Linked DNA regions of Homo sapiens. The protein of the gene in region 1 interacts with the protein of each later gene in a biochemical or structural test. Each region holds a gene or a part of one and is shown in the gene's direction. Other genes may lie near its edges.

Evidence for each region.
Region 2: the proteins of EPS8 (region 1) and DVL1 form a complex in vitro, tested with the Homo sapiens proteins (one study listed by BioGRID).

The regions. Positions count from the first base shown.
Region 1 is NC_000012.12:15,660,375-15,667,395, reverse strand, and holds part of EPS8 (epidermal growth factor receptor kinase substrate 8), read left to right. Parts: intron 1-873; coding exon 874-956; intron 957-1,503; coding exon 1,504-1,640; intron 1,641-2,289; coding exon of another isoform or gene 2,290-2,291; exon of another isoform or gene 2,292-2,602; intron 2,603-4,589; exon of another isoform or gene 4,590-5,060; intron 5,061-5,296; coding exon 5,297-5,370; intron 5,371-6,655; coding exon 6,656-6,782; intron 6,783-7,021. UniProt on the Homo sapiens protein: Signaling adapter that controls various cellular protrusions by regulating actin cytoskeleton dynamics and architecture. Depending on its association with other signal transducers, can regulate different processes.
Region 2 is NC_000001.11:1,346,398-1,354,194, reverse strand, and holds the start of DVL1 (segment polarity protein dishevelled homolog DVL-1), read left to right. Parts: upstream 1-4,776; 5' UTR 4,777-5,129; coding exon 5,130-5,299; intron 5,300-7,797. Other genes in the region: MXRA8 (matrix remodeling-associated protein 8 isoform 1 precursor), read left to right, coding at 1-2, 89-165, 249-347, 863-894. UniProt on the Homo sapiens protein: Participates in Wnt signaling by binding to the cytoplasmic C-terminus of frizzled family members and transducing the Wnt signal to down-stream effectors. Plays a role both in canonical and non-canonical Wnt signaling.

The DNA.
Region 1 (7,021 bases):
CTAGCAATGTGACCTTGGCCAGGCCCTTTTATACAAGTACTCCTCAGTTTTATTAATTAGAAGGAACTGATGAGATGCTCTTTTAAATATCCCATCATTTCTAAAGTTTTATGATTATCGATGCTTACTGTAAAAGAAATACAACATACATATTTGAGAAAACATTACAGAGAACAGGGAGGCCCAAACATAGATGGTGCATCTCATCAACATTCTAATATAGAGTAATGATCACTGGCTCTAAACAAACTTTGCAACCAAACAGAAACTTCGTATCTGCTAATCTCACGTTGCTCCCCAAGAAAAATCTAACTGAATGTTCTGGAAAAGTAGTGGAAAAGTTAATTGTTTGCAGAAAGTTAACTTTTACCTGAAGTGACAAAATAAAGTGGTTACCCAAAGGGGTAAAACCTAGCGTTGGAGTTTATCTTATGGGTGTAGTAGATTTGCCTTAAACTCAAAGATTTGTTTTGCTGGGTTAATGGGTGTCCAGTGGATCTTGAGGATGAGAAAGGGAAGGAACTCTGTTCTATGTGTGGGAGCCTCTAACCCCTTAATTTCTACCCAATTAGAGATTTTTACTCAGTTTCATTTTTAGCGTGTACATATCCTTTCTATCATTGCCTTTATTCAAGGATAGTTTCCCTTTAAGATAATCATTAAAAATTTCTTCAGTTTTTAAAATCTTATCATTATATAGTTCACCATTATAAAAACCACAAGAGTCATGTTTTGCAAGATTTTTATAAAAAGACTTTTTACATCAAGATACTTACTGATTCAGACAAGGAACAATCCCTTTTTCTGTTTTAAACTACATATCAAGACTCAGAAAAATCCATAAACTTTCAGGTAACTTGTGTCTCTTTGCAGGCAAACCTAATTAGTGAAGATATTGAAAGTGCAATCAGTGACAGTAAAGGAGGGAAACAGAAGAGGCGGCCCGACGCCCTGAGGTAAAAGCATTGAAAGAAATCAAGGAGTGGAATTGATTTGTTTCTAAGGCTTTTTTCCCCAAAGAGTTAGAAAAATTATTTTCTATGGAAGTATATTATTGTATTGTATAGATCATAACCTGTAGTCTCAACACATTTGTTCTCCCAAGTTTGTCAGTGTGTTTACTCCTCTTCTCTCCATATTTTTGGTCTTTCTCTGATATGGCTTCACTTGTGTTGGAAGTCACAGAGTCATGAAAGATGAGTGGCATTTTAAGAGAAGGTATCCTAGGGAAATACAAGCTAGACAGTAGGATTGTAATTGTTCCATGGCCCTTTCAAATCACATAAGACTCAGAAGGAAAATCAACCTAGTTTTCAGCTGACTATTAATTTTTTTATTTCATATGCATTCATAAATATGCATAATGTGTAATGCTTAGGAAATCCTTATTGTCCCTTGACATAGTTCTTTTTGAATTTTAATAACTAGTACCACAAGTTGAGTTAATTGATATGTTATAGAAATAGAGATGGTAAAAATTCTATTTGTTTTCATCTTTTTAAGGATGATTTCCAATGCAGACCCTAGTATACCGCCTCCACCCAGAGCTCCTGCCCCTGCGCCCCCTGGGACCGTCACCCAGGTGGATGTTAGAAGTCGAGTGGCAGCCTGGTCTGCATGGGCAGCCGACCAAGGGGACTGTGAGTCTTCCTAGAATTAATACTTATTGAACACTTACTTTGGGTTGGGACATAGTTCTTGCTTTCAAATTCTGATGCTGATTTCAGAACTGAAGCTTGAGGTTAGTTTTTAAAAAATCAACTCTGGCCGGGCGCAGTGGCTCATGCCTGTAATCCCAGTGCTTTGGGAGGCCGAGGCGGGCGGATCACCTGAGGTCAGGAGTTTGAGACCAGCATGACCAATATGATGAAACCCCGTCTCTATTAAAAATACAAAAATTAGGTGGGTGTGGTGGCATGCGCCTATAATCCTAGCTACTGGGATGGTTGAGACAGGAGAATCACTTGAACCGGGAGGCGGAGGTTGCAGTAAGCTGAGATCACGCCATTGCACCCCAGCCTGGACAACAAGACCAAAACTCCATTTCAAAAAAAAAAAAAATCAAATCTTAGATAAAATAAAGTTAAGCCTTGAATTTTGTTAAGATTATTATCTGTAAGAGTTTAGACCCACCATTTAATAAATATGGTATTAGGGTTAGAGTCTTTTTATTTTTTTAATGCTAAGAGGAAGTTTTACTTGATTGACAAAAAGATGGCAACAAAATATATACAGGTTTTTCTTAAAGATTGCACTTAACATTCTTTCCATTTTTTATTATCTAACTAGAGTCCCTTTTTGGACAAGTTTGTCATATTCATGGAAAGGTTGTCAGGACAGTGGTTGGCTGCTGGCAGTGGAGAAGGGTAAAAGGTATCCATCATATGACTGTTCTTGTCAAGTGGGCCCTATGAGCGTGGCATCATTTCACCTTGGCATTCTGTTTAAAAACAATTATAACATAGAACTTAGTGTTACTTTTTATATGTTAGAATATTTTACTAGAATCTGAAATGTTTATAACTAAAAAAATGCCTTAAAATATGTTTGGTCTAGTATCTTCATTTTAAGGACGAATAAATTGTGATTCAGCAGGCTCCAATCTGATGAACTCTAGAGCCTCATTCTTTTGCCGCTACTCCAGTGGAACTTCTTAACTTCTTATTCTTTATCCAGTAAAGTATTATTCACACAGGGTATCTGGCACTATAGTTAAACGATATAACTCATTTCCAAAAATGAGTCACCTCGGACTCTACTTTGGATGTGCAGAGTAAAAGTTGGACTCTGAAGCAAGACCTGATATGTCTACCTGTGTGGTCTTGGGAAGTTATCTCTCTGTACTTCGGTCTCATCTCTGAAATGGGGATAATAATTCATGGGTTGCTCTGAATCTGAAAGTAAATAATGTTTATGGTAGTACCTACTACAAAATAGTAAGCATAATTTGTGGTTTTCATTTTGCCAAATTGAGTTCATTTTCTTTCTGAATTGTTTTCTATTTTGTTTAGGTTTCTTGTATTCTTAAAGGTTTTTTCAGAGGTTGAAATGTAAGCCGAGCTACCAAAGATATGAAAAAAAGAATTCTTTGATGCATTTATTTAAAAAAAAATTAATTAACAGAGATATGTAGTTTAATTTTATAACAGTTTCCGTTTTCATAAGTTATGTAAATTTGTATTGATCTGCTTTGTATTTAAAATGTGTTTAAAAGACAGTAATTTATTGTATTCTATACTTTTTGTGTACTTATGGTGTTTTTGTTGTTACTGTTTCGATGAAGAGGGTCTGAAGTAGAGGAAGGATAAGACAAGTTTACAGACATTCTGAACAAACCTGTAAAAATATATGTTGAACCTAATATATATAATATATATTATGTATATTATATGTTGAACCATATATATATGTGTGTGTGTATATATATATATATATATATATATATATTATTTTTTTTTTTTTTTTTTTTTTTTTTGAGATGGAGTGTTGCTCTGTCACCCAGGCTGGAGTGCAGTGGTGCGATCTCAGCTTACTGCAACCTTTGTCTCCTGGTTCAAGCGATTCTCCTGCCTCAGCCTCCCAAGTAGCTGGGATTACAGGCGTGTGCCACCATACCTGGCTAATTTTGTATTTTTAGTAGAGATGGAGTTTCACTGTGTTAGCCAGGATTGTCTTGATCTCCTGACCTCGTGATCCTCCCGCCTCAGCCTCTGAAAGTGCTGGAATTACAGGCGTGAGCCACCATGCCCTGCTGAACCTAATATAATTTATAACAAAGACAGAATTTATCCCTAGGGGTTTCTGAGCTTTCATTAAATTTTATCTGAAATATTTTCTGCAATGTCATCTGTTTAAGTGAGATAAGGCTTTCAGAACTTCTAATTTACCACTAGCCTAAACAGAAGACTTATTATATCAGGTTTGGCCTGGGTCCAGTCCAGTTTTTAGTTGGAAAGCCCCTCAGGAGGAATATCTTTTTGGTTCCTCTGGATGCTCCAGCTGACTCAGGCTGAACTGCTTCTCCGTTGAATCCCTGAGGCATATCTACCCCTGACTTCCAAAGGTGATCTCTGTGGAATAGCGCCAGTGGCACTAGGGTTCCTAGTCGTGTTTCAGACCTGACAGAGCCCAAGAAATACCATATCTCCCCCTCACTGTGCCCTCCAAATGATATTTTTTGGGGCCTCTGTAGAGTTCCTAATAGCTATTTCAACCTCAACTTAGTACTTTCTGTGGTAGTCCACTACAACCAAGGTAGCAGCTATCTATGTGTAAAATAGTAGCTAACTGGCAAGATTTCATAGATAGAAATTTTAATTATCTTAAAGTAGTTAACAGCCGCTAATTAAGTTTCATAAGACACGATGATTTCTTCTTTCTTTTTTTTTTTTTTTTTGTTGGCAAGTGTTCCAGTTACAGGTAAAGTTAGTGTAAAGGAAGAATAGCAATACAAAGTGTCCAATTTTTTTTTGCAGTTCTCTCTATTGAACATCATGAGTCACGATGATGTATCATGAGTTGTATTTCCATTTGTGGTGTTACGTTTCTGTTGTTCCATCCATATATTTTGAAATTTATTCTACCATGAGATATCTGTAACAACTCTCTGTGTTTAGAGGCAGTATTAACTGACTCATACCAGGAAGGAGTTCATGATAATAACTTCATGATTAACATCATGCTGTAGCCAACTGAGCAACCTTAATACCCTGAATGGTCTTAAGACATTTATTTTTTAATGTGAAAATTTCTGTCTGCTTTTAAAGCATGTAGCTTAAAATTAATGAGCCCAACATTGTGGGTTTTAAGCTTAATTACACTAGAATTTTAAGAAGCACTCTGCTGTCAGAACTCCGAAAGCTTTATTGTAGTCACAGTGTTGGAATGTATAAAAATTATAGCTCTGTTGCATTAGAACTTAGTTGACCAGCTTTTGAGAAGTAAAAGCTTGACTGCTGGTTTATATTTCTGGCTTGTGTAGGAATTAAAGGGTGCTAAGTTAAGGTTGGTTCTACAGGTAGCTGACTCAGGGAAGAGAGAGAATGGGGTGATATTACAAGGTAAATTAACATCATAAAGTTGAGAGGACTAATACTTAAGCTCTGCTCAACTGCTCCTGTTAGTATTGACAAGGATGCATTTCATGGCTGATGAGCACAGTTTTGACTTGTGTATCCAGTGGAGGTGTTCCCTTTGGCAAATGGTCCTCCTTTTTAACTAATTTTTATGTTTTAATTGTCTGTATTGGTATTGTGGGAGTAAAAGATTGAAAGACTTATGATTGTCCTTTCTATAGTTGAGAAACCAAGGCAGTATCATGAGCAGGAAGAAACACCTGAGATGATGGCAGCCCGCATTGACAGAGATGTGGTAAGTACAGGAGTCGCCTTTAGATCACTGGCTTTTCTTTTAAGAGGAAAAAGAAAACTTCATAAGAAAATGAAGCTGATTTAAATAGAGATATTTTATGGAAACCATGTTTTCTGTTACCTGTGATGGCTATGCCCTTTGAATTTGCCCTTTGAATTATTTTCTCGTTAAACATTTTTGCCTTTATGCCAATATTTAGTTAGTAGACTTGGGCTATGATAGAAGAATCAGCTTATTAACTAGTTTACATTGGAACTTAGGCTGAATTATTAGATTTCAGGAATGGTACAATTTTTATTTTATTATCGTTTGTAATTCATAATTGAAATATCTTTTTAATATGTCTTCTTGGCATTTATTAACAATGTATTTTAGAATACCTAAGAGATAAAAGTTAAGTGGCATTTTTAAAGGATAGATTTGTAAATCGTAAAGCTTTTATAAAAGATAATGCTACATTTGTTTTCTTTATAGTGATTTACAGAATGAGAATGCTGTAAATGCTTTATTATAGCATTTTCATTCTTTAAATGAGATCTAGAATATGATGTTAATACATTACTTTTTATACCATATACATGTTACCAGCTTATTGAGAAACAAATACTGAAAGGAATTTGAAATTTCTAATTCAATTTTTACAGCACACTATTACATGTTATACTTAAAAGTTTAACCCCAATTTGTAGTCTTAAATTAGAAGAATGTCAAGTTTCACACATACTGGAGAAAGGCAACTAAGACTATAGTATATAAGATAATCAAATTCATTCCAGTGATCTCTGAAAGCATGGTGCATTATTCTATTTTGTCATGTGGAAACTCTTATTAATGCTTAGTATCCTAGACTAGCTATTAGGTTATCACAACAATCTGTATACCTTTAATTCCATGAAGTAATATTGTCAGTGCTTTATTGGGACATTTATCAGTAAAGCAAAAATGTCAGTGCTCTTCTAACAAAACCTATTTTAGAATTTTCCTCCTAACTGTGTGGGAGAACACTGAGAAAATTAGAGTAATTGAAAATAATAATCTGAGCAGATATTGTGAATGCTTCCTTGATGACATTGAAAATAGAGCAAAAGTAAGCTAAAGAAAAATGTAAATGTCAGAATATGGCTATAGGTATATTTAGTTTGATTCTTGTAATTAGTAATAAACTTGAAATTGGCATGTGGGCTGCTTCCTTTTCTAAAAAAACCTTTCTATTATTTACTAACAGAGTACAGCTAAGGTAAAAATAGTTTTGTTTTATATTTTATTCTATAATTTCTAATTTCAGCAAATCTTAAACCACATTTTGGATGACATTGAATTTTTTATCACAAAACTCCAAAAAGCAGCAGAAGCATTTTCTGAGCTTTCTAAAAGGAAGAAAAACAAGAAAGGTAAAAGGAAAGGACCAGGAGGTAAGTTGGATTTTCTTAATCTTCTAATGCCTGGTTAGATCTCCAGTACTGGCTGGGCGCAGTGGCTCACACCTGTAATCCCAGCACTTTGGGAGGCCGAGGCGGGTGTATCATCTAAGGTCAGGAGTTCGAGACTAGCCTGACCAATGTGATGAAACCCCGTCTCTACTAAAAATACAAAAATTAGCCGGGCATGGTGGCATGTGCCTGTAATCCCAGCTACTTGGGAGGCTGAGACA
Region 2 (7,797 bases), on another chromosome or scaffold:
GGGTGAGTGCCCCCCTCCCGGCCCTCCTGGGGACCAGGGCCCCCTTCACCCCACCCAGCTGTAACCTCCTCCCACCCTCGCCATCCAGGAAGGATGTTAACTTGGCGGAGTTCGCTGTGGCTGCAGGGGACCAGATGCTTTACAGGAGTGAGGACATCCAGCTAGGTGAGGCAGTGCTGGGACACGAGGGCACAGGCGCGGCTCCCAGTCCCGGGCTGGGAAGTGCATCCTGGGAGCGGGGACCTCAGCCTCCTCTCCTCCCACAGATTACAAAAACAACATCCTGAAGGAGAGGGCGGAGCTGGCCCACAGCCCCCTGCCTGCCAAGTACATCGACCTAGACAAAGGTGAGCGGCGGGGGCGACCTCAGCCCATCTCAGAGCCCTGCCTGTCCCCATTCCACCTCACCTGGGACCAACGATGGCAGGCACCAGCCAGGCCCGGGGCCCCTGCCACCTCAGGCTCAGAAATCCCTGGGGAGTCCTGCGGGGGGGTCTGCCCTGTGTCTCCCACTGTGATGAGGGTGGAGGACAGCCGCCAACCCGTTGGCGCCCTTGGCTTCCAGGGTTCCGGAAGGAGAACTGCAAATAGGGAGGCCCTGGGCTCCTGGCTGGGCCAGCAGCTGCACCTCTCCTGTCTGTGCTCCTCGGGGCATCTCCTGATGCTCCGGGGCTCACCCCCCTTCCAGCGGCTGGTCCCGCTTTCCTGGAATTTGGCCTGGGCGTATGCAGAGGCCGCCTCCACACCCCTCTCCCAGGGGCTTGGTGGCAGCATAGCCCCCACCCCTGCGGCCTTTGCTCACGGGTGGCCCTGCCCACCCCTGGCACAACCAAAATCCCACTGATGCCCATCATGCCCTCAGACCCTTCTGGGCTCTGCCCGCTGGGGGCCTGAAGACATTCCTGGAGGACACTCCCATCAGAACCTGGCAGCCCCAAAACTGGGGTCAGCCTCAGGGCAGGAGTCCCACTCCTCCAGGGCTCTGCTCGTCGGGGGCTGGGAGATGTTCCTGGAGGAGGACACTCCCATCAGAACTTGGCAGCCTTGAAGTTGGGGTCAGCCTCGGCAGGAGTCCCACTCCTCCTGGGGTGCTGCCTGCCACCGAGAGCTCCCCCACCTGTACCACCATGTGGGACTCCAGGCACCATCTGTTCTCCCCAGGGACCTGCTGACTTGAATGCCAGCCCTTGCTCCTCTGTGTTGCTTTGGGCCACCTGGGGCTGCACCCCTTGCCCTTTCTCTGCCCCATCCCTACCCTAGCCTTGCTCTCAGCCACCTTGATAGTCACTGGGCTCCCTGTGACTTCTGACCCTGACACCCCTCCCTTGGACTCTGCCTGGGCTGGAGTCTAGGGCTGGGGCTACATTTGGCTTCTGTACTGGCTGAGGACAGGGGAGGGAGTGAAGTTGGTTTGGGGTGGCCTGTGTTGCCACTCTCAGCACCCCACATTTGCATCTGCTGGTGGACCTGCCACCATCACAATAAAGTCCCCATCTGATTTTTAGACTTGTCCCAGGTATGCTTCTGAAACTCCGTCTCCTGGGGCTGGGCAAGGCATGAGTCTGGGCCTGGGAGTCCTCGTCTCCACCTGGAACCCCTGACATCATCCCATTCCTTGGGCTGAAAGGTCTGGGTCTGGGTCCTCTGGGAGTCGGTGTCCTGGGAAGGGGACCTTTGAGCTAGTTCTGTGTGGCTTCTGGTCGTGGAGGAGTTCAGATTCCCTTGAGGGCTGACCTGGACGTGAGGAGGGGGGACGTGGTGGTGGCTGTGAGGCCAGAGGGAAGGCCGTGGGAGCACAGCTCTTGGAGAGGCAGAGGGACGAGGAGCGGGAGTAGTGGGATGCGGGTCAGACACTTGCAAAGGGGGCGGGAGCAAAGAGGCTCCAGCAGAGACAGCCCGGGACAGCAGGGTGGTTCCAAGAGTCTTGGCCAGGCCAGCACGGATCTGGCCCTAGAATCCTTTCCCGCTCAGGCATCAGCTGGTTGGGTGCAGGATCTCAGCACAAGTTCAGGCGGTGGGAGGAGTGGCGGGAGCAGGAAGGCCCGTGGCCCGGGGTCCTGGCAGCACAGACCAGCGACTAACTGCTGCTTCTTGAAGCTGGCGTCACCACCCAACCCCATCCTCCAGTCCTCCCAGGACAGTGGGGGTGGGAAAGGGTGACAGTTGCCCACAAGGACCCCACACAAGCATGGATGGGGAGGGAGGGAGGCTGGTCTGGGGAGGTGTGGCTTGAAGATGCACCCCCCTCCCAGCCCGGTTACCTCTGGCCTCACCAGTGGCCACACCTGTCAGGGCCCCAGCTGGACCACATCCGCGTCAGCAACGGGACTGGCCTCAGGCCTCTGGCTTCCAGCCTCTCTTGAGACCTAGCCTGGGGTCAGGCCCTCAGGGCAGGGACAGGCTTCCTCCCTCCCTGGGGCCTCAACAGATAGCCCCTCTTAGGTCTTCCTGCCTGGCTTCTGACCTCTGGGGAAGAGAAGGGCTGCGGGAAGGTGGAGGGGGCTGGCGGCTAAGCTGTCCGGGCTTGGCTGAGCAAACGCCACAGTTCTCCCTCTCAGAGCCCGGGTGCAGGGTCAGGATCCCAGGCCCAAGCTGACCGTCAAGCACTGGTGCCTGCACTGATCGGTTTCTTTCCGAGCCGGTGCAGCCCCCAGCACGGTCAGGGCCCGATAGATGCCAGTTCCATCTCGCCGGCTTCCTGGGGACGGGAACCAAGGGACCCCACCGCACTCTCTTCCCCATCGCTCCAGCCCCGTCCAGGCCCCCTCCTCACTCCCCCCGTCGCTCCTGCCCCGTCCAGGCCCCCTCCTCACTCCCCCCGTCGCTCCTGCCCCGTCCAGGCCCCCTCCTCACTCCCCCCGTCGCTCCTGCCCCGTCCAGGCCCCCTCCTCACTCCCCCCGTCGCTCCTGCCCGGTCCAGGCCCCCTCCTCACTCCCCCCGTCGCTCCTGCCCCGTCCAGGCCCCCTCCTCACTCCCCCCGTCGCTCCTGCCCCGTCCAGGCCCCCTCCTCACTCCCCCCGTCGCTCCAGCCCCGTCCAGGCCCCCTCCTCACTCCCCCCGTCGCTCCTGCCCCGTCCAGGCCCCCTCCTCACTCCCCCCGTCGCTCCTGCCCCGTCCAGGCCCCCTCCTCACTCCCCCCGTCGCTCCTGCCCGGTCCAGGCCCCCTCCTCACTCCCCCCGTCGCTCCTGCCCGGTCCAGGCCCCCTCCTCACTCCCCCCGTCGCTCCTGCCCCGTCCAGGCCCCCTCCTCACTCCCCCCGTCGCTCCTGCCCCGTCCAGGCCCCCTCCTCACTCCCCCCGTCGCTCCTGCCCCGTCCAGGCCCCCTCCTCACTCCCCCCGTCGCTCCTGCCCCGTCCAGGCCCCCTCCTCACTCCCCCCGTCGCTCCTGCCCGGTCCAGGCCCCCTCCTCACTCCCCCCGTCGCTCCTGCCCCGTCCAGGCCCCCTCCTCACTCCCCCCGTCGCTCCTGCCCCGTCCAGGCCCCCTCCTCACTCCCCCCGTCGCTCCTGCCCCGTCCAGGCCCCCTCCTCACTCCCCCCGTCGCTCCTGCCCCGTCCAGGCCCCCTCCTCACTCCCCCCGTCGCTCCTGCCCCGTCCAGGCCCCCTCCTCACTCCCCCCGTCGCTCCTGCCCCGTCCAGGCCCCCTCCTCACTCCCCCCGTCGCTCCTGCCCCGTCCAGGCCCCCTCCTCACTCCCCCCGTCGCTCCTGCCCCGTCCAGGCCCCCTCCTCACTCCCCCCGTCGCTCCTGCCCGGTCCAGGCCCCCTCCTCACTCCCCCCGTCGCTCCTGCCCGGTCCAGGCCCCCTCCTCACTCCCCCCGTCGCTCCAGCCCCGTCCAGGCCCCCTCCTCACTCCCCCCGTCGCTCCTGCCCCGTCCAGGCCCCCTCCTCACTCCCCCCGTCGCTCCTGCCCCGTCCAGGCCCCCTCCTCACTCCCCCCGTCGCTCCTGCCCCGTCCAGGCCCCCTCCTCACTCCCCCCGTCGCTCCTGCCCCGTCCAGGCCCCCTCCTCACTCCCCCCGTCGCTCCTGCCCCGTCCAGGCCCCCTCCTCACTCCCCCCGTCGCTCCTGCCCCGTCCAGGCCCCCTCCTCACTCCCCCCGTCGCTCCTGCCCCGTCCAGGCCCCCTCCTCACTCCCCCCGTCGCTCCTGCCCCGTCCAGGCCCCCTCCTCACTCCCCCCGTCGCTCCTGCCCCGTCCAGGCCCCCTCCTCACTCCTCCCATCCTGGGCCGCCCTCTAGTGGCCTCCGCGCTTCCTGCTGGGGTCGGGTCGGGAAGGCCTCCAGCCCCGCGAGCCCCGGAACAGTAAGCGCGGACGCCCCGCGGCCTCAAGGGACGCCTCGGAAGTCTCCCCTGCCCTGCGGAGAACCCCAGGACTAAATCCCTCCCGCCGCCGGGCGCTCCGACGCCTCCGTGCACGCCCGCGCCCCCGCGCGCCCCGCATCCGCTCGGCCTGCTGCCTGGACCCCGTGGGACCCGGCAGAGGGCACGCGAGTCGGGAGCCTTCGCGGTGGCGCAGAGCGACCGGGCGCCACCTCAGCGCCGCGCACCCGGCGTCCCCGGGGTCCCTCCGCCCGACCCGAGCGCCCCGGCGCCCACGGGCCCACAGCCAGCGGCGCGCGTCGCATGCGCCGGATCATAATGGAGCGCGGGCCCGCGCGCGGGGGCGGGGCCGGGGCGGGGCGGGGCGAGCGATGATCGCCTGCGTCTGCGCATCCTCGCCCCGCCCCCGCCGTGCGCCCCCGTGACGTCAACGCCGCGCGCTCGGGCGCCCCCCCGCGGCCACGCTCAGGACCCCGGGCCGGGCGGTCCCTTTAACGGCGCGGCCCGAGGGGCGCAGGCGGGAGGGCGGCGGGGCTGAGCGCGCCCTCCGTGCTGCGTCCCTCGCGCCGCTCCCGGGCCGGGGGCGGATGGGCGGCCGCGGGCCGCGGGGCAGCAGTCGGGACGCGCGCGGGAGCCGGGGGCGGCGGCCGGGGCCTGGGCGGTCGGGCGGGGGCGCCCGGGGGCCTCGGAGCGTCGGGGCCGAGAGCGGTGCGGGCCGGGCGGGGCGCAGGCGGGCGGGCGGGTAGCGCCCCGCGTCCGAGCCCCGGGCCGGGCCCTGAGCGCGCGGGCTCCGCGCCGCCGCCGCGCCATGGCGGAGACCAAGATTATCTACCACATGGACGAGGAGGAGACGCCGTACCTGGTCAAGCTGCCCGTGGCCCCCGAGCGCGTCACGCTGGCCGACTTCAAGAACGTGCTCAGCAACCGGCCCGTGCACGCCTACAAATTCTTCTTTAAGTCCATGGACCAGGACTTCGGGTCAGTCGGCCGCGAGGCCTGCGCGAGCCTGGCGCGGGCTCGGGGGTCGCACCTGCCCGCGCGGGGACGGGGCGGGGGTCCTGAGCCGTTCGCGCCCCCGGGGACCTGCGACCGCGACGCGCCTCCGCTAGATGCGGCGCGGGTGGCGGCCTCGGCCCGTGTGCGGCGCGCGCCCACCTGTCCGTGGAGCGGGGCGATGGCAGGCGGGGTTCCCGGCGTCCCTGGCCCCAGCTTCCCGGCCCCGAGTCCTGCCTTGGCCCGTGTCAGACTCGGTCGGCCGCATCGCTTCCACCGGGGCTGGCCGGGAGCGCCTGCCGTTGGTGCGGGCTGGGGTCAGGGGCGTGTCAGTGGGAAGGAAGCAGGGTGGGGTTCCCTAGCTGGGATGGGGAGACATGGGGGTACAGGTTCACCAACCTGTCTGCTAGGGTTTGCAGAAGCTTCCCGAGGGTCAAGACAGGTTCTCCTGGCCCCCTTCTGCAGGGTCCTTGTGACAGGGTGGAGGTCAAGGGCCACTGGTGACCATGAAACTTTATTCGCCTACCCGTGTCCTGAGCTTCCTGTGGGCCCCGTCCCCACTGAGCCACAAAGCACTTGCGTTCCCGGAGCAGCCCAGACCATCTGCTGTTTCGGGGCAGCCTGGGTCAGCGTCTCCCTGCTGGGCCTCGGTGGTGGTGTCCCAGGCGAGGAGACCCCTGCTGTGCTGAGCTGGGCCCTCTGGGACAGGGAGCAGGAGCCTGGCGGTCTGCTTGAGGCCTGGCCTGGCCCGGCCCAGCCACCAGTAACCTGAGTCCCTAGTCCCAGCTCAACAGTGCTGGGGGCGGGCTCAGGCCTCGTGGCCCCAGGAGGTGAGCCTCCGGCAAGCGGTGTCCTTGTGTGTGGCCGCTTCTTGGGATTGTGACATTAAGGTTGTTTCTTGGATTCTGTGGTTGCAGGGTCCTCAGGCAGCCCCAGGTCCAGTCAGGCTGGGTCCGCTCTGGAGCTCTCAGGGGGGCCCAAGGGACATCTAGACAGCTGTACTTTCCTTCCCCACCCCCACGACCAGGCAAAGCAGAGAGGGCAGGGTGCGTCCTTGGCAGCCTTTGAAGGCTGGGCGCTCCCCACTCGGCTCAGCGGCCCTCCTGCCCGCTCCGGTCAGGTTGGGCAGGAGGGGGCGGTTTGTTTTCTGAGTCTGGTCCGGGCTCCTCCCCAGCTGGGGCACCTTGCAGTCCCTGCTTCTCTGGGCCTGGGCTGCTTTGGCCTTGAGCATGGGGCATGTGTCAGGTACTTTTGTTTTTGACTTAGTTTATTATTCTAACGAAAGTTACCAAAGTTACTAATGCTGTTTGTTGCAAATGTGTGCCACCAGGAAATGCGTAGTGAGGAGGTGCCCAGCCCCCAGGTTCTGCTCCTGGACCATGCTCTGGGATGAAGCCCTGGGGGAGTCCGCCTTCTGCTCCTGACACCCACCGGGGGCTGCCCAGGGCAGAGACAGCCTGACTGTTGCCCTAGTGCACTTCTAGCAGTGGCTGCACCTGCTGGGCACATTTGGAGGACGCGTGGGTGCCCGGGCCTGGGAACAGGGTGGGCAGGTCTGGGTGTCGAGGCAGGCTTGGGGATGCGGCCAGGAAAGAGACAGGGGAGCTTCAGTGTACAGCTTTGGAGGCTGCAGACTTACAGGGGGCTGGGAGTCAGTGGGGCTGCAGAGGTCAGGGCTGGGCTGGGCTGGGCTGTGGGGGTTGGAAAGAATGGACTGGGGTGATGCTGGAGGTCCAAGACGAGGGCCTTGCTCTGTAGCCTCCCAGGTCCTCTGGCTGGGATGGGGGCCTTGCTCTGTGTCCTCCCTGGTCCTCTGGCTGGTGGCCTCAGGAGCCTACGGAGGACCCTCATCAATTACTTCCTTCATCCCTTCCCCTGAGTTCTACCCGCAGACCTCTCAGCACTGTCTGTTCTGTGGAATAGAACCCCCGTGGGAGGGGCTGGTTGGTCAGTAATACTTTAGCTTAAGCGACTGCTGAACTAGACACTGACCCTGGATGCCAAGCGAATGTAGTTGGAGATGGGGGGAAGAGAAGGCAGGTCCTCGCTGGTCTGGGGTGGCCTTCATAAGAGAGGGAGCTTCAGGCTGGGGACGCTGAGGAGGCCCTGGTGAGTCGGGGGTTCCTGCGCCAGCCCCCGCTGCATTCTCAGCCCAGCCCTGGTTCCCCAGCCTCTGCTCCAGAGCATGACTGACCACCTTGCAGTGCAGGGAGCCTGTGTCATGGCCACAACCACGTGCCCTGGTCTGGACCCCACTCCCCACGCACGGCTTTGGCCCAGTGGGTGAAGGTCCCCCGCCTGTCCTCCACTTTTCATGCCCTGGTCACAGCTATTCTGACCCAAGATCCCCAGGGCTGGGAGGAGGGCAGAATTGGGGAGGGTCTCTGCCTGGTGCTGGGTTTGGTGGTTGGCAGGGGGTCTCGCCCAGCCTTGGGCCGAGGCAGAGGAGGGAGGGTGTTTGGCTCCGGGTCCCCACTGCTGGG